Linked DNA regions of Homo sapiens. The protein of the gene in region 2 purifies or fractionates together with the protein of the main gene of each other region. This does not show direct contact. Each region holds a gene or a part of one and is shown on either strand. Other genes may lie near its edges. The genes, in order: FOXJ3, DDX42, PRP4K, RPS6KA4, NUSAP1, PIN4 and ANOS1.

Evidence for each region.
Region 1: the proteins of DDX42 (region 2) and FOXJ3 fractionate together in Homo sapiens (co-fractionation; one large-scale study listed by BioGRID). This does not show direct contact.
Region 3: the proteins of DDX42 (region 2) and PRP4K purify together in Homo sapiens (affinity purification with mass spectrometry, with the first as the bait; one large-scale study listed by BioGRID). This does not show direct contact.
Region 4: the proteins of DDX42 (region 2) and RPS6KA4 fractionate together in Homo sapiens (co-fractionation; one large-scale study listed by BioGRID). This does not show direct contact.
Region 5: the proteins of DDX42 (region 2) and NUSAP1 purify together in Homo sapiens (affinity purification with mass spectrometry, with the first as the bait; one large-scale study listed by BioGRID). This does not show direct contact.
Region 6: the proteins of DDX42 (region 2) and PIN4 fractionate together in Homo sapiens (co-fractionation; one large-scale study listed by BioGRID). This does not show direct contact.
Region 7: the proteins of DDX42 (region 2) and ANOS1 fractionate together in Homo sapiens (co-fractionation; one large-scale study listed by BioGRID). This does not show direct contact.

The regions. Positions count from the first base shown.
Region 1 is NC_000001.11:42,279,736-42,283,235, reverse strand, and holds part of FOXJ3 (forkhead box protein J3), read left to right. Parts: intron 1-2,798; exon of another isoform or gene 2,799-2,882; coding exon of another isoform or gene 2,883-2,950; intron 2,951-3,500.
Region 2 is NC_000017.11:63,772,783-63,776,969, reverse strand, and holds the start of DDX42 (ATP-dependent RNA helicase DDX42), read right to left. Parts: upstream 2,801-4,187; 5' UTR 2,594-2,800; intron 1,863-2,593; exon of another isoform or gene 1,792-1,862; intron 1-1,791. UniProt on the Homo sapiens protein: ATP-dependent RNA helicase that binds to partially double-stranded RNAs (dsRNAs) in order to unwind RNA secondary structures. Unwinding is promoted in the presence of single-strand binding proteins.
Region 3 is NC_000006.12:4,027,800-4,031,299, reverse strand, and holds part of PRP4K (serine/threonine-protein kinase PRP4 homolog), read right to left. Parts: intron 1-3,500. UniProt on the Homo sapiens protein: Serine/threonine kinase involved in spliceosomal assembly as well as mitosis and signaling regulation. Connects chromatin mediated regulation of transcription and pre-mRNA splicing.
Region 4 is NC_000011.10:64,365,662-64,369,161, reverse strand, and holds part of RPS6KA4 (ribosomal protein S6 kinase alpha-4), read right to left. Parts: intron 1,031-3,500; coding exon 902-1,030; intron 695-901; coding exon 561-694; exon of another isoform or gene 459-560; coding exon 365-458; intron 1-364. UniProt on the Homo sapiens protein: Serine/threonine-protein kinase that is required for the mitogen or stress-induced phosphorylation of the transcription factors CREB1 and ATF1 and for the regulation of the transcription factor RELA, and that contributes to gene activation by histone phosphorylation and functions in the regulation of inflammatory genes.
Region 5 is NC_000015.10:41,370,881-41,374,380, reverse strand, and holds part of NUSAP1 (nucleolar and spindle-associated protein 1), read right to left. Parts: intron 2,855-3,500; coding exon 2,697-2,854; intron 1-2,696. UniProt on the Homo sapiens protein: Microtubule-associated protein with the capacity to bundle and stabilize microtubules. May associate with chromosomes and promote the organization of mitotic spindle microtubules around them.
Region 6 is NC_000023.11:72,180,547-72,184,585, reverse strand, and holds the start of PIN4 (peptidyl-prolyl cis-trans isomerase NIMA-interacting 4), read right to left. Parts: upstream 2,801-4,039; coding exon 2,758-2,800; intron 1-2,757.
Region 7 is NC_000023.11:8,725,638-8,729,137, reverse strand, and holds part of ANOS1 (anosmin-1 isoform 1 precursor), read left to right. Parts: intron 1-3,500. UniProt on the Homo sapiens protein: Has a dual branch-promoting and guidance activity, which may play an important role in the patterning of mitral and tufted cell collaterals to the olfactory cortex. Chemoattractant for fetal olfactory epithelial cells.

The DNA.
Region 1 (3,500 bases), on a different chromosome or scaffold from region 2:
AGAACTGCAGACAAATTCTTCTCTGTGCTTTGCTTTCTCCCACAGGTAACAGTATATGCTTTTCATCTTACTCCCATATTCTCATTTTTCTTTGTTATTCTGGTAGAATGGTTTCTTTTCCTGTATAAAGCTGCCTGTCAGTCTGTGCTCTGAGTCATACTTTTTTCTGTCTTACGAAAGACTTCAAACCTATGAGTACCCTTACTTTCTGCTACTTAGTACTCTCACCTCTTTAACTTTTGAACTTGTTACAGTCTCACTTGTTTGGGGAGGAGCACACGCATACCTTCATTGGATAGTTACTATTTCAGTCATGAAAGTTTCTTCTTTCAAGGAGATCAGAATCTCCTGGGGGAGAGGTAGATAAAGATAATCACAGTTACATATAAATTCTGTGATAGGTGTATTTATACTCTGCTTTAGGAATAATAGCTCCTTTAGCTTAGGAGATGGAGGATGGAAAGAGGGGATTGACCAGGCTTTCTGTAGCGGGAGATGTTTGGTCTTGAAGTAGAAGCCAGCCAGGCAGACAGAGAAGGAAAGGACATTCCAGAACAGAAGGCCCTTATTCCTTATCCAGTTACTATGTTATTTTTCAGATAATTTGTACCTGGCACGGTATTGGATAGCATCAGAAGTACTAATGTATGGTCACTGTCCTCAGTGGTTGGGGGAGAGGAGGTGAGGGTAGAAAGCTTAAGCATATGATTCAACTATGCATGTGAAACAACATGTCAGTTGCCAAACTGAGGTTGTAATTGCTCTAGGAATTTAGAGAAGGATTAATAAAAGATTAGTAAAAGCTAAAGTAGTTGAAAATGAGGAATTTAGATGTAGTATAGTAGGAGTTAGGGAGCCATTGAAAGTGTTTAGGCATAATGACATGAAAGCAGTGTTGATAGGTTTCTCTTGGAGTGTATGCATGGACTGGATATGATTAGTAGGGAGGAGTGGTTGAGACATCAGAGTCCAGGAAGCCAGCTAGGAAGCTTTTGGAATGAGGTGAGGTAATGAGGGCCTGACATTTCTTAACCAGATTTCCATAACCAGATTTCTCCCAGCCTCCCATGCTGTTTTTAAATTTACCACCATCTGTTCTCGTATACAAGTGGACTTCTGTCATCACCATTCCACTAATAAGTTTGTTTGTTTCTTTTTTTTTTTTTTCTCCTTTTTTGAGACTGAGTCTCGCTCTGTTGCCCAGGCTGGATTGCAGTGGTGCAACCTCGGCTCACTGCAACCTTCATCTCCTGGGTTCAAGTGATTCTCCTGCCTCAGCCTCCCAAGTAGCTGGGATTACAGGGATGTGCCACCACATCCAGCTAATTTTTGTATTTTTAGTAGAGACGGGGTTTCACCATGTTGGTCAGACTGGTCTCAAACTCCAGACCTCAGGTGATCCGCCTGCCTCGGCCTCCCAAAGTGTTGGGATTACAGGCATGAGCCACCGCACCCGCCCTAATGAGTTTGTGTCTAAAGTTACTGGTGATCTGGCCAAACCTAATGGTCATCTTTTGTGCTCTCCACGCTTGATGGAGAACCACAGTAGCCACCAGCCTAAGTATCAACAGTGGGGACACTTTTTGCTTCACTACCAAGAATGCTGTATATAAAATTTAAGAAATTGCAAACAGAACAGAAGCCCCACTTTTTTAGAGTTTAAATTTGAGATGTTTTTATAGTGTACTTAAAATTTGCTCTTGTGGAACTGATGAATATAAGCACAGTGGAATAATTTTTACACATGATGGCTTTGAAGACTAGGGTCCTTTTTCTTTCCAGTCTATTTAAATCTTCACTTAGCTGAAGTTCTTCAGCTAAGTCAATCTTCACTTAGCTGAAGACTTGCTAAGTTCTTCCTTCTTTACCCTCAAGGCTTTAGTCCATGTTGTTTATTCCTTTTCCTGAACCTTCATAGCACCCACAGCTCAGCTGTGTACTTTTATTCAGTTCTTTGTTGTGTCTGAACTTCTTTATTGGATTATAAGTTCCTGGAGGACAGGTATGTGTGTATTTTTATTTTATTTTATTTTTTACTGTAACATAGCTCTTTACACATGTATAATTTATGCATCCTTGTTAAATATATAACACATAGTAAATACCTGTATTACTGAGATTCTTATAAAGTCTCATTACTGGCACTGGTGGAAGGGAGCAGAAGGCAAAGATGGTTCTCAGTAGGGAGCACCTGCAATAACAATTATATTCCAATTTGTAATATGCTTTTGTATGAAAATGCATGTAACTGGCTGCTTTGGGAATTTGAACAAAATAAAGCTCTACTCCATGGAGACTTGATTGAGGTAAATTGGATGACAGCATGGTATAAAATAGCCAATCTTTATTGAATGAAATGTGAATAATAATATAAGCAACTACTCTTATTACCAATACGAGTAGTTAACATTTGTTGAATACTTATTACTTGCCTGGCACTGTTCTGAATACTTTACATCAGTGAGGTGGGAACTATTTAAATTTTTTCATCTTACAGATGAGGTATGTTTAGCAAAACTACCAGATTGGGTATCAGGAGATCTGGGCTCTGGTTTTTGTACTACTGCTAACTACCTGTGTGAAATTGGATGAGCTTTAACTGCAGTTTTTCATTACTGAAGGGATTCATCTCTGATCTCTAGGGTACTTTCTCTACTGTTTTGACATTGTGTGATCTCTAAATTATCCTATCTTCTTATTCTACAAGTCCCTATAACTTCTTGCTGGGAACAGGCATTTCTGGTTGAGATTGTAGAGTAGGATAGTAAGTTTTTTTTTTTTTTTTTTTTTTTTTTTTAAGATCTCTGAAGATGCTATATGGATGAATTTAAAGTTCAGGTTCAGAGGAATGTGTACAATAGAGATGGAGGGAATTTGAGAAAATGAGTAAGGTAAAATTATGGATCAACATACCTGAAAATCAAGAGGACTCAATTTACTGGCAGTGCAGGTAGAATCCTCGTGGTTGTCTTCTGATTTATAATTGCTTTTGCTTAATGTGGTTTACTTTATAGTGCATTGGTGCCCTCCCAAGATACTCCTAGACTAATATTATTAACTAGCACTTACTGAATATTTTTTTGTGCATGTTTTAATACATTTAATTTTCAAAGTAATATTTTGACCATAAGTACTATTGTTGCATTTTACAGATGAGGAAACTGGGAGGTAGAGGTAATTAACATCTTCACAGTTCTACAGCTTATAACTGTTAGAATCAGTACTTAGACTCTGGGTCTTCCTTACCCCAAACTCCCTGTTCTTTATTATTCTCTGTTGCCGCCAAGTTGTTCAGATCCTATACATAATATTCAAGGTTGCTTTTTGTCAGGAGCCATTTGGAATGAAGGGGCTATATGGGATTTTCATAGCTACAAATGTTTTCTTTTGACTTTTAAGTCAAAAGAAACCTTTAAGTTTTTTTTTATTTTGTTGTCCTTTTTTCCTTTATTTTGATATCACTTAGAAGTCTTTTCATTCTTCTCTACTTTATTGTCAGT
Region 2 (4,187 bases):
ACCACTGCACTCCAACCTGGGCAACACAGCAAGACAGTCTCTAAAAAATAAATAAAACACGGTGGTTTCCTAGGAAATCTTAACAGAATAGTAAAGTAGCACAGGCTATGTGTAAACTATCTTTGCTACTAACTTGATATGAACCTCAGGGAAGTTATTTAGCTTCTCTGGGTTCAGTTTCCTCATCTATAAAAAATGGTAAGAGGCTGTGTGTGGTGGCTCACGCCTGTAATCCCAGCACTCTGGGAGGCTGAGGCAGGCGGATTACTTGAGCTCAGGAGTTCAAGACCAGCCTGGGCAACACAGCCAGACACCATCTCAAAAAAAAAAAAAAAAGATGAGACTATCACCTATCTCAAGAGTTGGCGTGAAAAATTAAGTTCATACACAAAAATGTACTTGTTCAATATGTCAGCTACCATCGTGTTTTTCATTATTACATTATTTCTGAAGAACCAATTTCTTCATCGGTAAATTGAGACTATCAGACTTCTTTCAACTCAGGTATTTCATACATAAGCGCCACAAGAACACTGAAGATGTCAGAGATCACCATGAGCTAACAAGCAAGGGCAAGTGTCATAACAGAGTCAGAAGCCAGGCTAGGCACAGAAAGATGAAAGCTGGGTAGAGACGTGCAGACGAAGACATTCCAGGGAGAAAGACTGAACTAGCAAAGGCTAGGAAGTGAGAATAAATGTGGAACACACTTATAAAGGAAGACAATTTAGCTAGTTTGTGTTTTCGGCAATGGCGGAAAATAAGATATGATCTAAATGACTTTAAATATAGTGGACTAAAAACAACTGATTATATAAGCCACATTACTTTATCACTTGTATTTTTGGAGGTGGAAGGAAGAGTTCTAGTGACAGTGATTAGCATCTACTCTACATATACTTTGAGAGTACCTCACACACTATATACAGGTCAGTTCTTTGATGAGAATCTAAATAAAAACTCAAGAACGTAATCACATTCTTCTAAACCAAATACAAGTAAATGCTAGGTTATGGTTATTTTAGAAGCATCCCTTCTCCTGTCAGCTTAAAGCAACTAAGAGCTGATTATATGACTATCAATGTAACAAAACAAATTTAAATAACTGCACTCCTCTCTTATATTAAATTGTTACAATATAAATCAGATATTATCATTCCTCTGATCGAAACCCTCAGATCCTTCCTAAGTAACAGCCTAAAAGGCTTTGGTTGTTCCGCTCACTCCCTTCCCCCAATTCTTCCCTGACCTTATCTCCTAATACTCCCTCAGCTCACAGTGCTCCAAACGCGTTGGTCTTCACACTCTTAACGGGCCAGCTTTGTCCTCCTCAAGGCTTTTATGTTTGTTATTCTCTAGCTTGGAACGTTCCTTTCCCCAGATAAACGTAGGCTCTCACTCCACCTTCTAGTCCGCTTAAATATCAGCTTGTCTGTATGGACTTCCCTGACCACTTTATTGCAAATTCCAACACCACCACCTCCCCAACCCCCTTTCCAGCTTTCTTTTCCCTAAGATACTGATCATCTTCTAACATTCAGTATAATATATGTATCTGTTTGCCTCTCCTCCCGCTACTAGAAAGTTAAGTTCCCCAAAGGCAGGGGTCTAACACCTATCCCTATCACCTAGAACGGCGCTAGAGAATAGGCACCAATAAAAATACCCCTTGAATGAACGAATTGCACATTAGGCTACACAATGCTTCTTCCAGGTACAGGAAGATATATTTTCTTTTCCCAGCTGTCAAAATATAAACATTAATTTTTGTACGAAACACTCATTGCTCACCTCTTATGTGCCAGAAATGAGCTTGGCTCTGCAAAGCGCCTTAAGACATAGTCCCTGCGCTTGAGGAAGTCCTGGGTGTGTATACGAGAGAGGACAGACATAGAAACATCATTGACAAAAAGAAAACACAGGGAAGCCACAAGAAATTGGATAACTGCCTATAGGAGTGGGGGCAAGAGGGAAATTCTCAGTGATGAGAATGTAATTCCCCAAAACTCTCGACAGCTTCTCCTGTTTTTGATGCATATGTTTGCAATTCCATGTAAATTATTTATTCACATCAGATACGCTCTCAAGTAGGCCGCAAAAAAGTTTGTGTGACTACAGTGATGCTAATAATCGACCTACTCAACGCTGCACAAAGATCATCGCCTATATCTTTTCACTCCTCTCATTTGGCAGCTTTTGCCTCTCAGGACCCCAAATTCGGAGGCCTGCATCTCCCAAGCGCTGCCTCCTTGGGTCAGAATTCTCCCCGCGCTATTCCTGCCCTGGAGCCGGGCACCCTGCAAATCCTTTTCCTAGGCGAGGGGGCGCCGCCTCCGGAAAGCCGCCAACTGGGCCTCGGTAAGACTTGTGAGGGAAGCGGGAGCTGTGGGAGGGCGACGCGGCTAGGAAGGAACCCTAGAGGCCTCAGCCCCCACTCCCACCCCTTCCCGGCACCCCGGCCGCCGGTGCCCCGAGGCTCTGCCGACTCTTTGTTAAGCGAGGCCGCGGTTCCTCCGCCCTCGCTAGGCCCAGCAGTTGCCTCCAGTGCCCCCAAGGACTGGCGGCCTTGCGTCCAGAAACCCCACGCACAAACCTGCTGCTATGGCTGCAGCGGCAGCTGCTACAACCGCGGGCGCGGAGCGAATCCCGGAGCCCAAAGTACGCGCTGTCCCGGCCCGGTCCCGCCGCGCTCCTTCCTCTCCGCCCCCTTCGCCGCCGCCGCCGCCACCACCACCACCGCCGCCGCCACCGCCACCACCGCCACCGCCTCACGGCCCGTTGCTGAAGGGGGGAGGGGAACAAAAACGCGACATGCGCAGTGAGGAACGCGCGGGCAGAAGGGCGGGGCCGGGGCTACGGCTCCCGGAAGGCGCCTGACCTTAAAGCTCCAGAACGCCTCACAGGCTCCTCAGATACTCTGACGGGAAACTGCAGTTGGGTGGACAGTGTTCATGACCCATCTAGAAAGTGGGTCTGCGAATGAAGAAAAAGTGGCGTCAAGGGGCTAGCCAAAAATCCCAAGAGAAAACGGGTTGGACAGAAACCATATTTACATGAACATGCCTATAGTTTAAACTGTTGCATATACTACTAGAGCGACACTCTTGCCTCTGGCCACGTGGTCCCACACAGCATGGCCACCTTTAGCTTCCGGAGCACCGGTTCCGTGTGACGTCAACTTGACGGAATCCTAGGTAGGAGGATTGGGATAGGCGAGGGCAGTTCCGGCCCAGGGGCGGGGATTATGTAATTTTCCCAAAAGCCCCACCTCGCCTCAGCCGGGCGGGAGAGAGGGAGGTCTCGCGCTTTCCCCGGGGTTGCGTCCCGCCCCGCAGGCTGCGCGCAGGCGCTGACGAGCCGCTCGCATTCTACGTAACGGACGGCGGAGGCTACGTGAAGAGAGGCGCGGCGTGACTGAGCTACGGTTCTGGCTGCGTCCTAGAGGCATCCGGGGCAGTAAAACCGCTGCGATCGCGGAGGCGGCGGCCAGGCCGAGAGGCAGGCCGGGCAGGGGTGTCGGACGCAGGGCGCTGGGCCGGGTTTCGGCTTCGGCCACAGGTAAGGAGCGGGCCAGGACGCGCTCGTCGGCGTGGCCGGGCCAGGCCGAGCGGTGACTCCGAGTTGCTTGGCCTGTAGCCCGGTCCGGTTGAGATAATTGTAATGGTTTGGGGGAACTTTCCCACGGAGCTGTGAGCAAATGATAGCCAAAAGGGCAGAGTTAGAGGAAATGTACAGTGTGTGCCGGAGGATGACATTAGGATGTATTGATTCTCTTGGGTGGGGAGAAACTAGGCAAAGGGGTTTAATAGAAGCAAAAACCTCTGTGGCCAGTCTCTTCTGGAGGTTTCTAAAATGAAACGTGTTTGTATCCAACACATATAAAGAGACAGAGGAAAGTCTGCATGATTTCCAGAATACTCGTTTTGGCCGTTGTCAGGAAGACCTAATCTAAAATGACAACAAGGAATGATGGCCTCACTCAGTCCTCTTTCCTCAAGTCTAGACTCAGTCGCTGAGGAACTATTGGATGAGCTTGCAGAAAATAATCAAACCAGACTTGTTAGCGCTTGTGTGAATTTTCCTTGGTCCTGTGTTGCTTGCTTCAGGAGTCATAGAGGCTGGGTGGTCTGGCAAGGACTTGTGCATTTGAGAACTGACAGGTGCAGCGGAGACTTCTAAGAGGGAAA
Region 3 (3,500 bases), on a different chromosome or scaffold from region 2:
CTTAAAAAGTACAGGTTAGAGAAAAAGGGAAAAGCAAACCAGGCACAGCAAAACCTCATTAACATTGATTTAGTACAAGAAGCCACTCAGTAACTTAATTTTTAAACCAACATTTCTCACACATTAACAACCAAAGGGCCCGTTTTCTTTTTTAATAAGACCTACTAACTATTAACATACACTGGAAGACTAATCTCCTTCTCCACTTGAAATTCATGAAACTTGGTGTCTCTACAGTAAACCCAGCAGGTCACTTGTTTTGAGCAGATTTCATCTTATACCTTAAAAACAAAGCAAAACAAAACAAAACTCTAGAGCCAATACTGAGCTATACCCAAAATAAGCACTCAATCAATGTGCATTGGTAGCTGATACTGATGATGGTGATAGTATAAACACATCCTCACAAGTTGAATCTTCAAAGTGAACTAAACCGGAAGTTAGGACTCTAGGCTTGTAGTAAGCAATCATACGACATTAGGCTGAACCACATGGAAGGGCCTTTTGTAAGTCAACAAGTCTAATATCAGTAATTTAATACAGTACAGCCCAATATTCATTCAGCAAGTGATTTAATCTCTCTGAATTTCAAATGAGAACTCAGTTTCCCAAAATACATTTACATTAACAGATGCTATGGAAATAAATAAATAAAGTGGGGGATTCTGTGCTTAAATGTTTGGCTTATGCTGAGTTAAAAAGTTTATGATTCTAAATTACGTTGTCGAGCCCTTGGTGTTTAAGAATCCCAAGTTAAATACTGGTTCAAAAGCACTATTTAACTTTCTCTTTAAAAGTTACTCCATAATAAACCATCATCCTAGAATATCAGACCAAAAGTGGCCTTAAATTATCTAGATTCAGGCCATCATACTATTTTTGGAGGAAGCTATGGATTATTTTGTCAGGTCTTCATATTATATACTCCTATACTTTTAGTAAGTTTATCCTTGCAACCTAAGAATTCATCTGTCTACTCACAATCTCTTTAACATTTAAAAAAAACTCACCAACCATGGGTAAGCATTAAGCCACGCGGCAGGAAAACAGATGTACAAGCCAGGCATGGTGGCTCACGTCTGTAATCCCAGCACTTTGGGAGGCCAAGGTGGGCAGATCACCTGAGGTCAGGAGTTCAAGACCAGCCTGACTAACATGGGGAAACCCCCTCTCTACTAAAAATACAAAAATTAGCCAGATGTAGCGGCACATGCCTATAATCCCAGTTACTCGGGAGGCTGAGGCAGGAGAATCTCTTGAACCTGGGAGGCGGAGGCTGCAGTGAGCCAAGATTGCGCCATTGCACTCCAGCCTGGGTGACACAGTGTGACGCAGTCTCAAAACCAAAAAAAAAAAAAAAAGAAAGAAAACAGATTACAAAACCAGTATCTGCCTCCTTCAAAGAAATTAATGTCTGGTGGAAAACTAAGTCACATGACATAACCATAAAATACTGGAGAAGTGCAATGATGAAGACACAAATAGGGGCATTATGGGAACACTGAAGGATCACCTAAACTAATTTCGAGAACGGTCAGGGACACTGTTTTGTAGATCACAGAAAGAAACCAATTTGTTAAGCAGGGATGTTAGGAGGAAAGAAGAAACGTTTACTGAGAAAGGACAGGGATTAAAAAATAAAGGTTGGCCCAGGCACAATGGCTCACATCTGTAATCCCAGCACCATGGAAGGCCAAGGCAGGAGGATCACTTGAACCCAGGAGTTCGAGACAAGCCTGGGCAACAGAGTGAGACCTCATCTTTATTAAAAATAAAAAAATTAGCTAGGTGAGACCTCATCTTTACTAAAAATAAAAAAAATTAGCTATTCAGGAGGCTGAGGTGGAAGGATTACTTGAGCCTGGGAGGTCAAGGCTGCAATGAGCCATGATGGGGCCACTGCACTCCAGCCTGGGTGACAGAGCAAGACCCTGTCTTTAAAAAAAAAAAAAAAAAAAAATTGAGTAACACCGCCCTAGAGAATGAGTAAGGAATTAACAAGAAGGGAAAAAGGGGCATTTCAAATAGAGAAAGAAGGTGACAAAAGGCAGTTATATATAGCAAACTTCAAGTCGATCAGTGTTGTGAAAGACACTGAGGTAAAGATTCCAAGTGGAGCCAGGCATGGTGGTGCACACCTGTAGTCCCAGCTACTCAGGAGGCTGAGGTGGAAGATCACTTGAGCCCAGGAGTTTGCAGCTGCAATGACCTATGATCACACCACTGCACTCCAGCCTGGGCAACAGAGAGAATCCTCCATCTCATTAAAAAAAAAAAAAAAAAAAAAGATTCCAAGTAGACCAATTCCAGGAGATAACAAGATAATATATGGTTCTAGGAGTGGGTAGTTGAGAGAGAATTAAAGGTTCACTGGAGTCACAGAGGCCCAGGAACTGCAAAAGTACGTTGTCTAGCCAGGTCTCATAGTCTTGAATAAACTTGCTGGGAGAAGGGGTGGGGGAGAGAGAATGGCGGTATGACTGAGAAGTTACTAATTAGTTGACAACAATGAGGGGGAGTGAAAAACACATAGCCACTACAGGGTACCATACTCAAAGAACTTTGATTTTTGGATGTCACATTGCCAACTTCCATTTCTGGCAGGAAAAGGTATTTAAGAGATGTGCAGAAGAAGCTACGTCCTCTGGTGAAAGTCAGGTTTTAATTTGGGTTGACTTCTCCCTAATGGAGTATGAGAAGACACATGACAAATACAGTAGTGTTCTCTGGATCATTAATTTTTCTCAAAGACTTGGAAAAAGTGCAGTATCTTGGTATTATAAAAACACCACCAGGCCATGTGCAGTGGTTCACACTTGTAAGCCCACACTTTGGGAGGCTGAAGTGGGAGGATTCCTTGAGCCCAGGAGTTCAAGGCCAGCCTGGGGACCATGGTGAGATCCTATCTCTACAAAAAAATTTAAATTAACTGGGTATGGCAGCATGTGCTTGTAGTCCCAGTTACTCAAAAGGCTGAGGTAGGATCACTTGAACCCAGGAGGGGATCACTTGAGCCCAGGAGTTAAAGGCTGCAGTGAGTCATGATCATGCACTGCACTCCAGCCTGGGCAACAAAGGAAGACCCTATCTCAAACACACACAAAAAACAAAACACCATCATTGTTTTATTATGGAAGGGAAAGAAGTCACATAGATTTCAGTAAAAAGATTCCAAGACATTTCAACTTTGTTCTTTATATAGGCTATATTCTCATCCTTTGTCCCCAGAAATCTCCCATCCCATAATCCAGAAGGTCTTTTTTTTCCTGAACCTTGACTTATAGGGGGAAAAGTCTGAGAAAAATTTAGGCTAATTCAAGTTATGAAGGTAGGAGAGTCTTTAAAGATTGAGAATGATCTTTAGGCGTATAAAATCTAAGTGCCCAAAGTACAAAATTCTAGTCACTAAGCTCAAATTCAAAATTACCTAAAGTTTTGAGTTTTAACTCAAGACTGTCCTCAAGACAAAGGACAGCTGAGTGGTTAAGCAGTCTCTGGAG
Region 4 (3,500 bases), on a different chromosome or scaffold from region 2:
ACGCCACCGCGTCCGGCTAATTTTTGTATTTTTCGTAGAGACGGGGTTTCGCCATGTTCCCAGGCTGGTCTCGAACTCCCGACTTCAAGTGATCCGCCCACCTCGACCTCCCAAAGTGCTGGGATCACAGGCGTGAGCCATCGCGCCCGGCCAAAGTCCCTTTTCTTGTCCATCCTCAGCTCCGCCTTCCCGTCCTCAGGCCCTACTCCCCTCAAATTCCACTCCCTGCGCCTCCCTGGTCCCTTTGGGCCCCGAATCAAACGCTAGGCCCCGCCCAATTCACCCCTAGATCCCGCCCATAGTGCCCCCAAGCCCCGCCGCCTGCCCCTTTTCTCTCCGCCCTCCCCTGGCCGGAAGCCATCACCTGGTCGTGATGCACCTCGTGCAGATTCACCACGTTGGGGTGTGACTGGCACAGGCGCAGGGCAGCCACTTCGCGCTGCGTGTTCGCCTCCAGCCTGGGGGACGGAGCAGAAGGAGTTACGGTCGCCGCGCTTCGGCCCCGCCCCCGGGACAGCGCTCTGCCACCCCCACCCCTGCCCGCGCCTGGGCCCTCCCACCTGCGACTGAGGATCTTGACTGCGAACTCCTGGCCGCTCTGGCGCTGGCGGCAGCGGCGACACACAGAAAAGCTGCCCTGGCCCAGCGCAGGCTCCCGCAGGTCCAGCTCGTACTGCTGGAAGAAGGGCGAGTCCTGGAGGCGAAGGCGAAGGCGAAGGCGAAGGCGGCGCGTCAGAGGTCCCACCTGGTAGCCCCGCGGCCCCGCCACGCCCCATGTCGGAGAGGCTTAGGACCTTGCTGAGCTCACGCTGCGGGCGCCAGTTGGATCTAGGCCTAGAGTCCCCGGGCCTAGGCCTCTCCTAAAACCAATTTCCCCCCAACCCAGCCCAGCCCAGCCCACCTGCATCATAGCGCTCCTGGCCACCGCTGCCCGACCTGGCCGGTCTCCAGCACCAGGCGCTTCCAGCCCATCGGTCATCACCGCGTTGTTGTGGTCAAAGAGAATGGAGGGTGCCACAAAGGAGTATCCCTGCAGGGCGGGAGTCCGGGGAATGGGCATGGGCATGGGGGTTGGGGGTGCGGGTGAGGAGACTCTGGTGGGGAACCAGGCAAAGGCAAGACCCTGGACAAGGGGGCAGTGGGGGGTGTTCCAGTTGCATTCTGGTACACACAGGATGTGTGGACACTTTTTATTCCACCTGGTTTTATAATCACTTGGGGCCATGTCTGTCCCCACCAGCCTGTGACCCCAACTTTCTCATCAGAGTGACCACTTATTCCTCCCCAGGTGCCAAGGGCTGAAGGCACTGAAAGGACCAATGAATATATTGAAAGTGTGGCCTGAGTTCACGCTTAGCTTATGAGAATCCAACTCTATCCGCTGAGGAAAAAAAACTTATTCCTCCCTTTCAAGCCGGACTTTGGCTTCTTCTGCAAGGGGAGCTACTGAAGAAATGCAAAAAGAAGGCAGAGTTAATTCTTTGCTTTTCCTAAAGATCCATGTCCTGGCAATTTGAGGAGCTTTTAAGGGTCATTTTAATTGCGTGTTGTGGCCAGGCACGGTGGCTTGCGCCTGTAATCCCAGTACTTTGGGAGGCTGAGGCAGGTAGATCACCTGAGGTCAGGAGTTTGAGACCAGCCTGACCAACATGGAGAAACCCCATCTCTACTAATAATACAAAAATTAGCCAGGCGTGGTGGCACATGCCTGTAATCCCAGCTACTCGGGAGGCTGAGGCACGAGAATCGCTTGAACCCGGGAGGCAGAGGTTGCGGTGAGCCGATATCATGCCATTGCACTCTAGCCTGGGCAACAAGAGCGAAACTGCGTCTCAAAAAAAAAAATTAATTATCTGGGAGTGGTGGCACTTGCCTGTAGTCCTAGCTATTGGGCAGGCTGAGGTGGGAGGATCACTCAAGCCCAGGAGTTCAAGATTGCAGTGAGCCATGGTTGCCCAACTGCACTCCAGCCTGGGCCACAGAACAAGATCCTGTCTCTAAAACATTAATTAATTAATTTTAAAAAATAATTTTAAAAATAAACTATGTGTCATCTTCTCCTAAAAATGTAGTACCCAGATCCGTACCTGGAATATTTTAGGCACTCACTACACATTTTTGAATCATTAAATGAATGAATGAAAGTACCTACCAATTCAAGAGAAAGAACTTTATCATGAGGGCTGTGAGACAATGGAATGGAATGTGGACATTCAAGCACAGAGTTGTCAATTCTAAGAGCTTCAGAGAAGGGACTTATCCAGCCATACTTGGTCTGTCTATTAAACAAACCATACTGGTTTATTTAGTGATAATGATATAATATCATTATGGCAACATGATAAACTGCACAGAAGGAGATGCTGTCCACAGAGGACTGCAGCACAAAGAAAGGGTGACCCCCTGGGCCAGGTGAGCAGACAAGGAGGCCTAAAAGAGGGGTAGAAGCTTGCCATGTAGACTGCTGTAGAGAATGTACTCCAGGTAGCAGGAGCAGCAAGTGCAAAGGCACAGAGGTATATTCTGGAACCTCTGAGCAGTTCGATCATGCCCTCCAGAGCATCAAGTAGGAAAATGATGAGAACTGAGGCTAAGGTTCTAAGCAAGGACCACATCATGAAGGGCCTCAATGCCCAAGCAAAGGGAGTTTGGACTTGTCCAAAAGGTGTAAGCTTCTAAAATTCAGTAGAGGGGGCTTGGCATGGTGGCTCATGCCTCTAATCCCAGCACTTTGGGAGGCCGAGGTGGGCGGACCACAAGGTCAAGAGATTGAGACCATCCAGGCCAACATGGTGAAACCCCATCTCTACTGAAAATACAAAAATTAGCTGGGTGTGGTGGCGCACGCCTGTAGTCCCAACTACTCAGGAGGCTAAGGCAGGAGAATTGCTTGAACCCGTGAGGCAGAGATTTCAGTGAGCCAAGATCTAGCCACTGCACTCCAGCCTGGAGACAGAGTGAGACTCCGTCTCAAAAAAAAAAAAAAAAAAAATTCGGTGGAGGGGACCTGACCCTCCAGGAGTGTACCATGCTATGCCAAGGGCATGCAAAGCCACAATATCAACATGCATCTCCTCCTAGGTGTCCACGTGAGAAAGTGAAGATCTCTTTTTTTTTTTTTTTGAGACGGAGTTTCACTCAGTCGCCCAACCTGGAATGCAATGGTGTGATCTCTGCTCACCGCAACCTCCGCCTCCCAGGTTCAAGGGATTCTCTCACCTCAGCCTCCCGAGTAGCTGGGATTACAGGCGCATACCACCACATCCAGCTAATTTTTGTATTTTTAGTAGAGACGGGGTTTCCCCATGTTGGCCAGGCTGGTCTCGAACTCCTGACCTCAAGTGATCCACCTGCCTCAGCCTCCCAAAGTGCTGGGATTACAGGTGTGAGCCACCACACCCAGCCGCAAGTGAATAATTTCAAACAATATTTTTACATAACAATAAAGAGATGATGGAATAGAAGGGAAATTAACAGAAGGTTTAAAGATAAACCATGAA
Region 5 (3,500 bases), on a different chromosome or scaffold from region 2:
CTAGCTCTCTTTCTGCCACATGAGCATACAACAAGAAGTTGGTAGTCTGCTACCTGGAAAACAGCCCTCACCAGAATCATGCTAGTGCCCTGATCTGCCCTCATCCAGCCTCCAGAACTATGAGAAAGAAATTACCGCTGTTTATAAGATACAGTCTTTGGTGCTTTGTTATATAATAGCAGCCGCAAAGGACTAAGACAATCTACATGAATAGTCTGAAATAGATGAAAGTCTGAAATAAGGGTTAAAATGGAGAAAAGGGGAAAACAATAATTGAGGAAAGCTAACCATTGAGATTAATTTCCTTTGCTAAGCAGCTTTGTAAATGTTCTGAATATTTTGTTTTTGTATTTTTAGTAGAGACGGGGTTTCAGTGTGTTAGCCAGGATGGTCTCAATCTCCTGAACTCATGATCCACCTGCCTTGGCCTCCCAAAGTGCTGGGATCCTAGGATCAGCTGGGAGTTTAGAATTCTGTTGAAGGAAATGACGGTAACTTTTCAGCTTATTTCCCTGATAACAGATATGGCTCACACCTGTAATCTCAGCACTTTGGGAGGCTGAGGCAGGAGGATTGTTTAAAGTCAGGAATATTATTAATAAGGGCTCTTATCACTTCAGAATATTAATTTTTGGCTGGGCGCGGTGGCTCATGCCTGTAATCCCAGCACTTTGGCAGGCCGAGGTGAGCGGATCACGAGGTCAGGAGTTCAAGACCAACCTGGCCAATACGGTGACACCCTGTCTCTACCAAAAATACAAAAATTAGCCGGGCGTGGTGGCGGGCACTTGTAGTCCCAGCTACTCGGGAGGCTGAGGCAGGAGAATGGCGTGAACCCAGGAGGCGGAGGTTGCAGTGAGCCAAGATGGTGCCACTGCACTCCAGCCTGGGTGATAGAGTGAGACTCCGTCTCAAAAAAAAAAAAAAAAAAAGAATATGAATTTTTGCACCACGAAGTTAAAAATATCCAGGATGGTGTAGTTTTTTTTAATTTTTTTGAGACGGAGTCTTGCTCTGTCTCCCAGGCTGGAGTACAGTGATGTGATCTCAGCTCAGTGCAACCTCTGCCTCCTGGGTTCAAGTGATTCTCAAGTGAGTAGCTGGGATTACAGGCGCGTGCCACCACGCCCGGCTAATTTTCGTATTTTTAGTAGAGACGAGGTTTTGCCATGTTGGCCAGGTTGGTCTCCATGCCACCATGCCCAGCCTAAGGATGGTGTAGTTTAGTTAGCCTTTTTGCTACAGTTGGCCATCAGTTAATCCTTTCTCTCCCAATCTCTTTTTTTTTTTGAGACAGGGTTTCACTGTGTTGCCCAGGCTGGCTGGAGTGCAGTGGCACAATCTCGGCTCACTGCAACCTCTGCTTCCTGGTTCAAGCGATTCTCCTACCTCAGCCTCTTGAGTAGTTGGGATGATAGGTGCATGCCACCATGCCCGGCTAATTTTTGTATTTTTAGTAGAGTTGGGGTTTCACCATGTTGGCCAGGCTGGTCTTGAAATTCTGACCTCAAGTGATCCACCCACCTCGGCCTCCCTAAGTGCTGGGATTACAGGCAAGAGCCACTGCGTCCGGCCAATCCTTTCTTTTCATAGGGGGAAGCCACAGGTCATTGCCAAATGTGAACCCTTGCCTACATCTGTGAAACAGCAATCAGGATCTAAGACCACTTAGTTAAAAAAAAGCACAAAACCCTGTGTTCAAGCTATCCCACTGTATCAGTATCAAATGCTGACAGGGAGTAGAACAAGGGACTGCCATACACTGCCACTGGAAGCACAGATTGGTACAATTCATTCAGGACAGTAAATGTCTGCATATTTTCCAATCCAGCTGTCCTGCTCCTAGGTCTAGGGAAACTCTTGCACATGTACAGGAGACATGTTTAAGAGTATTCATAGCAACATCATATATAATAATGGAAGCTGGAACCACCCACATGTTCGTGAATAGTAAAATAGATAAACTGACATATACCCACACCACTGAAAAATACTGTGAAAACGAGTCAACATGGTTGAATCTTGAAACATGAAGTCTGTGGTCTGGGATCCTGTTAGTGTCAGAGTCCTCCAGGACCTTTCCGAGGCTGCAACGAATACTGTGCTCATCCTCCGAATCCCTGAGTCCCACAAGGGGCACAGTGCCCTTCCTGGAGGGTCACCATTTTAGGATTAGATGGAGCTCTCAGGCAGATATCTGGTTTTTGCTTATGTCTCTGGCATTTCCCCCACTAGTACACAATTAAAAATACACTATGGTAAAATTTTTGCTTTTGATTATAGAAATGGAAAGGGTTTAAGGAAACAGATACAGGCCGGGCGCAGTGGCTCACGCTTGTAATCCCAGCACTTTGGTAGGCCGAGGCGGGCGGATCACCTGAGGTCAGGAGTTTGAGACCAGCCTGACCAACATGGTGAAACTGTCTCTATTAAAAATACAAAATTAGCCGGGCATGGTGGCATGTGTCTGTAGTCCCAGCTACTCAGGAGGCTGAGGCAGGAGAATTGCTTGAACCTGGGAGGCAGAGGTTGCAGTGAGCCGAGATCCCGCCATTACACTCTAGCCTGGGTGACAAAAGCGAAACTCCATCTCAGAAAAAAACAAACAAACAAAAAAAACAGATATACCTAATCATTTTGGGAAGTTACATGGCTTAAAAATGAAACAGATTTCTTTTGTTTTTTTTTTTTTTTACCAGCAGCAGAATTCCCCGTGATGGTCTTTAATTTGTGTGTCCCAAGCACAGCCTCGCCTTTTGGGGTGCCCCCAGACACGGTCACATGTGCAGACTTTCTGGCTGGAGTCTTGGTCAGTGAACGCTTATGCTCATTATCTTTAGTAGCAGCTGAAAACCTAAATAGGACAGCAGAGTACAAGACATGAGTACTGTGGCAAGAGTAACTTGTGTCTAGCTTATAAATAAAACCACTTGACTATTAGCAAGCAGTGAAAAGGGCCTCAATTAATAATTGTCATAGGAACGAACCTCTTTTGCAGAAGAGACATATTCCTAAAAGGCTAATGCTAAATTAAATCACATATCAACTAACATTATTTGTAAAATATGTTCTTGTCTTTTCTGCTCTCCCTGCCTTGGACAATGATGGTGATGGAGGAATAGGTGTGGAGGCCTCATTATAGTCCAAGAGGCAAGCCAAAAGCTCCCCTTCCTCCTCCTCCTCCTCCTCCTCCAGGTTAGGGGAAGTCACAGGTAGCAGAAGACTGCTATGCTAGGTGAGTGGTGAGAACAGGTCTTGTATGTTCCTAAAAGAATGTCATTCATTTGTGTGGTAGAGAAATAAGCCCATTCTTTACCATTCTTTACATATGGCAAATTGCCACAAATGTATTTGATTGATTGACTGATAGTATTTTTTCTACATTTTAACATCTCTGAAATTGGGATGTGTTTTTACAATTCATAAGATGTCAATAGTTAATTGGTAGTGTTTTTTCTTGAGACAGGTTCTGGCTCTATTACCCAGGCTGGCATGCAGTG
Region 6 (4,039 bases), on a different chromosome or scaffold from region 2:
CCACCTCACTGCCTTTGATTTCCTGACGACTCTGGCATCAGCTTTGGGCTTCCTCTCCACCCTCACTCCTGCCATTACCTTGAGTGACCTCACCATCTATCTTGGGGAATCTCAGTTCTAGGTCTCTTTCCCGAATGTCATGCTCTCTACTCCAAGCTACCTGCCCCGGGGGCACACGATGGAACTGTGCCACTCAGAACTAGTTCAGTCTCTGGCTATAACCTCCTGTTCTTCCAGCTTCCTCATGTCTCATTCCCACAATACTTGCTCTTTAACTTCACAGAACCTCTCCCTTGACCCCAGTCCCTTCGTCCTGCTACATTCACCTAGGCCACCAGACTTCTTTTTCCCTTCCCACTCTGGACCCCATGTTCCTTCATCTGAACTGCATTCCCACTGGCCCTTGTAATTCCCTGGTGTTGCTATCCTCCTATCATAACTGCCTAACAAAACCTCAACCATGGCTTAAGGCTGCACCTAGCTCTTTTCAATCCTATATTGTGCCAATTGCATAGTACTAGGTAAATCAGACTGTGAAGATTATGTAGTCTACAAATTCATGGCCTTTGATCTTAGTCAGGCTCCTAGCCCTGAAGGCACTTCTTTTGTGTTTCATTCCCTCTTCCATTACGATATTCCAGACCTTTACCACTCTCCTCAAGATGCCTACTGAGTCCCTGCCCCTCCATCTCCTTTCCTATGACCTCAAGCATAAGGTGTCCCTGCTCCCCCTAGGTCCTGGATTCCATTTTCTCCTAAATCTCACTCTTCTGTACCTTTACCTCTTTTACTTTACTGGATCCTTCAGCTTCACTCCCAAGTTTTCCCCATTCCAAAGAAGCAAAGAAAATAAAACTTTCTCTTAATCCTCTGTCCTTCTCTATCTACCATCCCATTTCCATGCTTTTCAATTAAAACTTTCCAAGAAGTCCAAATTACCACTTCCCAGTCAGTTCTCTAGTCACGGTAATCTGGCTTCTGTTTCACTGAAACCACTTTTACCCAAGGCCACCTCTAATTTCCAAATCTGCTGTTCTTGATAGACTATACCCTCTCTCTTTAAAACATTCTGGTCTCTCCAGCCTCTGGCCACCATTCTGCACTCCCTCTATCTGTCTGCCTCTTTCTCTGCCTGTCCTAGGATCACATCCTCTGCTCTCTGCTCTTTTCATTCTATAAACTCTCCATGGATAATTGCATACACTCTAATGGGCTCAACTACCATCTATAAGTTAGCGACTCCTAAAACTTACATGTACAGTCTAGACCTCTCCCTCAAACTTTAGACTCAAATATCCAACCACTTCCTGACTACATCTCCACTGAGATGTCCCACAGACACCTCAAAGCCAATCTATCTGAAAGTGAATTCATCAATCTCATCCCCGCTCCTCATGTATCCTTGATGTTACCCTGCAGGACCAGCAACAGGTTAGAAATCCAATCCAGAAAACAGAATGATCGTTGATCCTCCCTCACCACCCCTCCCCAACCCAATAAATCACCAAGTCTTGACTATTTCACATCCTAATATTTACAGAATCTTTTCTCTTTTCTCAGTTCCCACAGCCACTCCCTTAGGTCAGTCCACCATCATCTCTCACCAAGACTACCACAACAATCTCCTTACAGGTCTTTCTGATCCTTAACTGTCCTTCTTAGCAGAATATATAGCACTCTCCATGATCTCGTCTTTGTTTCTGTTTTCATTCTCACCACTTGCCATTCTGCCTTGAGTTTTTGCTCCAGCAACACTACGCTGCACACATCATGCTGTTTCTCACCTCAGTGCTTTTGCTGCTGGACCCCAAGTAAGGAATGCTTTAACCTACCCTCAATGCACATCTTGACCTGCCTAATTCATCTCCAGGAAGTCTTCCGTTCCCTGTTCCCCAGCTAAATGAAGGACTTCCCTCAATTTCTATTATATCCCATACACATCCCTCAACACTACATTTAGTACAGTGCTTTATGATCACTAAGCCTTTATCTTCCTCACTACTTCGGGAGCTCCTTAAGGCCAAAATCTCTTTTTTTTTTTTGAGACAGAGGCTCGCTCTGTCGCCCAGGCTGGAGTGCAGTGGCGCGATCTCGGTTCATTGCAACCTCTGCCTCCCGAGTTCAAGCGATTCTCCTGCCTCAGCCTCCCGAGTAGCTGGGATTACGGGCGCGCACCACCACCACGCCTGGCGAATTTTTGTATTTTTAGTAGAGACGGGGTTTCGCCATGTTGGCCAAGCTGGTCTCGAACTCCTGACCTCGTGATCCATCCTCCCTCGGCCTCCCAAAGTGCTGGGATTATAGGCGTGAGCCACCGCGCCCAGCCTTCTGTCTTATTTGTGTATCCTCAGCGCTTAGCACTCTGCCTGACACATTTCTGTTCAATGGATGAATGATTCCTTCCCCGATGGTGGGCATGTCATTCTGTAAGCATTAAAGTGAACTTTAAGGACCATAACCAATGTGTACTTCCTATTGCTGGCTTTTGATAAGACCCAATTTTAGAGCTCTAATAACCCCTTGAAATAGCAGCCCTAAGTCATCGCCTCCGAGGAACTATCCCCATCAGATTCCATTACCCACTAGGACGGTCCCTGAACCGTAGCCCAATGTATTCCTACAGATGTAATCGATGGCAGCACTGTGGGGCCACTGGCTACCTGCTGCGTCCGTCCCGGACTCCGGAGATGGACTGTCTGTTCCCTCCCTTCGCTCCTCACCCGCCCCCATTCTCCTTGATCGCTCTGGCCGCTCTACCTTTCCCCGCTTTTCCAGAACCACTTTTTCCTTTGGGCGGCATCTTGGAAGCTTGTTGTTGAACGCTGAACCGCTCCAGTTGCCGTACAAGCCCCTTTAGAAGCCCCGCCATGGGCATGTCCTAAACAAATGCCTGAAAGCCGCATCTCAATTGACCGTTCTTATTGCGGCTCCGGAAGCAGGCACAGCTTGGGGCAGACCCCGTCCTTTGGCTCTTGGACCAATGGGGCTGAAGATGTCTGACCAATAAGACGCTTGGGCCGAAACAAAGGCAGAGGGGCGGAGACAAAGGCCGGATTAGGGCGGGAAGCCTGGCCTCTGCGCTTTTTGTGACTTCTTTCACGCACCCTAATTTGCACCAGATCCCCCACTCCCCACACTCTACGCCCGAAGCTCCCCCGTTCCCCTCAACCTGGCTTTTTTCACGCGTGCGCAGTAGGAGCCACGGGGGTGGGTGGCTCTGCAGTCCCTCGGCGCCAGCTCTGGCCAATCCCGCGGGGCCGCCAGACAAAGGGAAGCAGGAGTACTGTGGTGGCGGCCAACTTCCGCTGTCTCCTCCTACACACAGGGCTGCCCTCCCTGGCAGTTTTTCGTTTGTTAATTTTATTCTGCAGTTGTAGCTAATTAGGTTCAAAAGGTAGTTTTTAAAAAAGCCTGTCACCTTTTTGCGTCTTGCAGAGCTCAGTCATGGAGAAACATTGGAAGCAGTCTGAGTGCTCCTCAGTCGGGTACTGCTTAAATAATGTTTTAGCCACACAAGAAGATATTATACAACATTCAAAATAACGATTGTAAGGCTGTGTGTACAGATAGGGGAAATGTTTTTAAGACCAAGATAAAGAATATGATTCCTTGTAAAAGAAGTATATGTAATGTATTGTATGTTATATGAATATAAAGGAGAGGAAAGCTATAGAGCAAGATGTGGCCAGTGGTGCTAGTGCATACAGGTCATCGTGTTTGTTTCTGTGTATTTTCCAAAATTTCCATAATGGTGCAGCATAGTGTAGTAAAAGCATGGATTCTGGAGCCAGATTGCCCAGTTTCAAATCCCTGCTCCACATCTGTCTACTAGCTCCATGACCTTGAGGAAGTTACTTCACCTCTCTTTGGCTCAGTTTCATCATCTGTGAAATGGAGTTGATGATAATAGTACCTACTATTATCCTATCAGGTGTTAAGAGAATTAAACAAGTTCATATCTGTAAAGCACATAAAATGATGGCTTGCTCATATTAATAATGTTTGCCTAAGATAAATGATTTTTGAATTTGTGCCCACA
Region 7 (3,500 bases), on a different chromosome or scaffold from region 2:
CTGTCAGGCCTTGCCTCAGGAGAGCGCAACCTATGCACTCATGGTGTAGGCAGTGACACAGATTCCCTGGGGCAGTGACCTGCTGTCGTCGGCCTGCAGAGGAAGCTGTCGTCTCATAGTCTGTGCCCCAGTTGTCCCCACTGTCCTCCACTGCCCAGCCCTTCAGCAACAAGACAGAAAAGCAGTGGGTAGATGTGCACACCTGACACCTCCAGGTCTGCAGGCTGTTTCTGCCCCACCTGCACAAAGTGGCTGTCAACCACGCCCAAAAACACAAGGGACTCAGTACTGAGGCATGGGGGTGGGAATGCAGACCAGGGATACCTGAGTAATCCAACACTGCTCTGACCTGGAAAGGAAGAAAGGAAGATGGGATGGAAACCCCATCATTTCACTACTGAATGCTGCCCTTCATTCACGAAAAGAAACAGTGCATGTTAGCACCTCCTGAAATATTAGTATCTGGCTCCAGGATGCTTTGTCCAGGTCATTTGGCATGGAGCTATTTCAGGCTCACAAGTAGAATACATATGTGCGGTTAGCAGAGTGAAGAGGAGCTGTGGGTCTGTGAGGTATGGAACAGGGAAGTGGGCTTTGGGGCTGTGCAGACCTGCTCTACACCCAGGCTCTGTAGCGTCGCGAATGGGTAGCTTGGGTGCATCACATCACCTTCCTGAATGTTAACCCTTCATATGCCCAGTGGGGGAGAGAAGCACCTGCCCTGCAAGATGCAATCAGGATGCAAAACATGTTGGGGTGATGCAGGTGATGGTAATACAGCAGCTAGCACTACCCGGAAGATTACTAAGGAGCAGCCACTCTTCTGGGTATTTTACAAGTACTACTCTTTTAATCCCCACAACACTCCTAGGAGGCAGCTACTAAATTAGGGAAGAACTCAGAGGTCTTGAAAAGTTGGCTCATCACACAGTTCATTGACGATTTAGCCGGGTTAATAGTGAGGATGGCTTCTAGCTTTTGGTTTTGTTTCTATTTTTAAGATTTTGTTGGTTAGCTGGATAATTTACTTCAGGACTGACTACCTAATTTTCAGGCCCTGGTGCAAAATAAAAACGTGGGGCCTCTTAGCAAGAAAAAAAGTGTTTGTTAAAGGAAATAAGATATAAAACGTTTTCCTTTCTTCTGCCACTTGCTTCTGTTAACTTGTCATGGTGTTTTAAATTTCCTATCCATGTTGTTCTCAGTGAAGAAAATTTTAAAGTTTAATTTTAGCATGACGCTAACTCTTCTTCTTTATATTGTGCAATGCCAGCTTTACATGTAAATATCAGAGCACTTAATTCCTGGAGGGAGCCCTGAAATGGCCAGAGGGTCCAACAGGCCAGACTCGGGAATGGTGGAAGGAGGAAGAGAAGGCTCCCCCAAGGCTTTGGGGTGTGCCCAGGGAACACTCATGTCTCACAGGCACCTAGGGCCTTGGGCTCAGACACATGTGCTCAGGCATGATGCTGGCCAGGTCCCCTCTTTTGCCTGCTGCTGCACCCGGGGATTGTACTCTTGCCTGGCACAGGTCCTCTGGAAATTGAGCCAGGTGCCTCCCCTTCATAGGCCAGCTGCTCCTGCCCCCAGCAGATGGGCAGCTCCCAGGTTTATTGCATCCTCCTCAGTGGATGTGCCATTCCAGTGTCTCAGAATCGTGCTGGCCACCCACCAAACACACCATCATGCTACTAGCATGGAATGGGGACAGACACAACCATACCATGGGACACTGTATGACATGCATATGGCCAACCCTGATCTTCCCTACACCCATGCCCGGTCCCTGCAGGGACCATAGTGGGCAGGGATCATGTGATGGGAGGTGGGGAGCAGAAGGCCAGTGGGGCCTGAGGTGCCAGGTGATGGGGGAATGGGCGGTGAGAACCTGTCCTGGAGAGGTGAGGGTGCGGTGGGAGTCAGGATTGGTTCTGAGCTGACATGTCCACTCTCCAGTGAGTACTGCAGTGTGCTATTGACTCTTACATACAAAACTCAAACTCAAAGAATTTCAGCATGGCCATTGCAGAGCATACCCCAAGCCTAGGTCCTCTTGTGAGCATATAGTGGACTGCACTGTTCATACGTCTGTGAAACTGACCTAATTTGCTTTGTTTGTATGTCAAAGATTCAGCCATCTGGGAAAGTTTAAACCTACTTTGGAGTGGCGGTTCCTCATAGGGTCACCTGTAATGTTAAAGGGTACGATGCTGACATATGCTCACTTAGGGAGAAACATCTCTCCTCTTATGTTCTCAACTTCTCTAGAAGATTAAAGAAGAAGGAAAGGAGGGAGGTGGTGCCTGAGATAAGCCCTGTCTCTTTATAGGTGACTCTTGATGCATTTGAGAGTGACTTCATGCCCTATGCTTCATCTTGGACACTCCTGCTCCTCTGACCTCCTCTGGGTCTGCCCATGATGGCACAGGTGTAGCTGAGTCTTAAGCTCTAAACATAATCAGTTCCCTAAGCATGGGCAGGCTTGGGACCTGCCATTGGCAATCTCAGCATTGGCAGGCCTGGGACCTGCTCTTTGTCTGCCTGTGTTTTCTCAATGGAGGCTCAAAACAGTAGGGTTTGAGGAAAAGTAGTAGTCCGTGGGCAAGTGAGGCGGGATGTGTGTGTATGTGTGTCTGTGTCTTTGCCAGATTTCAGAATGCCCAGGGAGAAAGTGGATGGGATCCTGCTGGAAGACTAATAGCAGGTTGCTGGCAGCTTGGCCCTAGGGTTCCAGAATTGTACTGATGTTAAGAGATTCTTCCTTAATGGGACGTTATTCGCCCTATAAAGTACCACCGATAGGCTCCCTTTGGTAGCTGATTAGAGATCAGAGGCTCTTCCTAGCAGTAATTGGAAGCTGTTTGTTTTGGCAAAAAGGAGAATGAAGCTGGTGATGAGATCATTCCACTTAGAGGGCCAGCCTCTCCTCCAAGGCAAAGTAAACAAACAATTAGCGCATCAAAACCCCAGCAGCTACAAATCAGCCCCAGGCTCACAGATTTCAGAGGAATGGATTTTGTGGTGCTCATACCCAGCCTACGATGTGTCCCTTTGCTCTGTGCTGAGTTTTCAGTTATATTGCAGGATGGCCAGGCATTTAGAGAGCCGCTGGGAGAACCACGACTCGATGCAGTTTGGTCTTGGTGTTTCCTGGTCTGAGTTATTGGCTCTCTGGCTGCGTTTCTAACACGTTCTGAATTTGACCCAAAAGAAACCTTATACTATTCATTGCAATTTTTTGTGTTTTTAATATGGTATTTCTCTTTGAACATGATTTAAAACTCTACCTTATTGTGACTGTAATAGAACATTTAAAAAACAATAGAAAATACACTTACTAACTTGTTTATTTCTTTATGCAGTATATCAAATATATATATCTGTATATATATATATCTGTATATATATATCTGTATATATATATATCTGTATATATATATCTGTATATATATATATCTGTATATATATATCTGTATATATATATATCTGTATATATATCT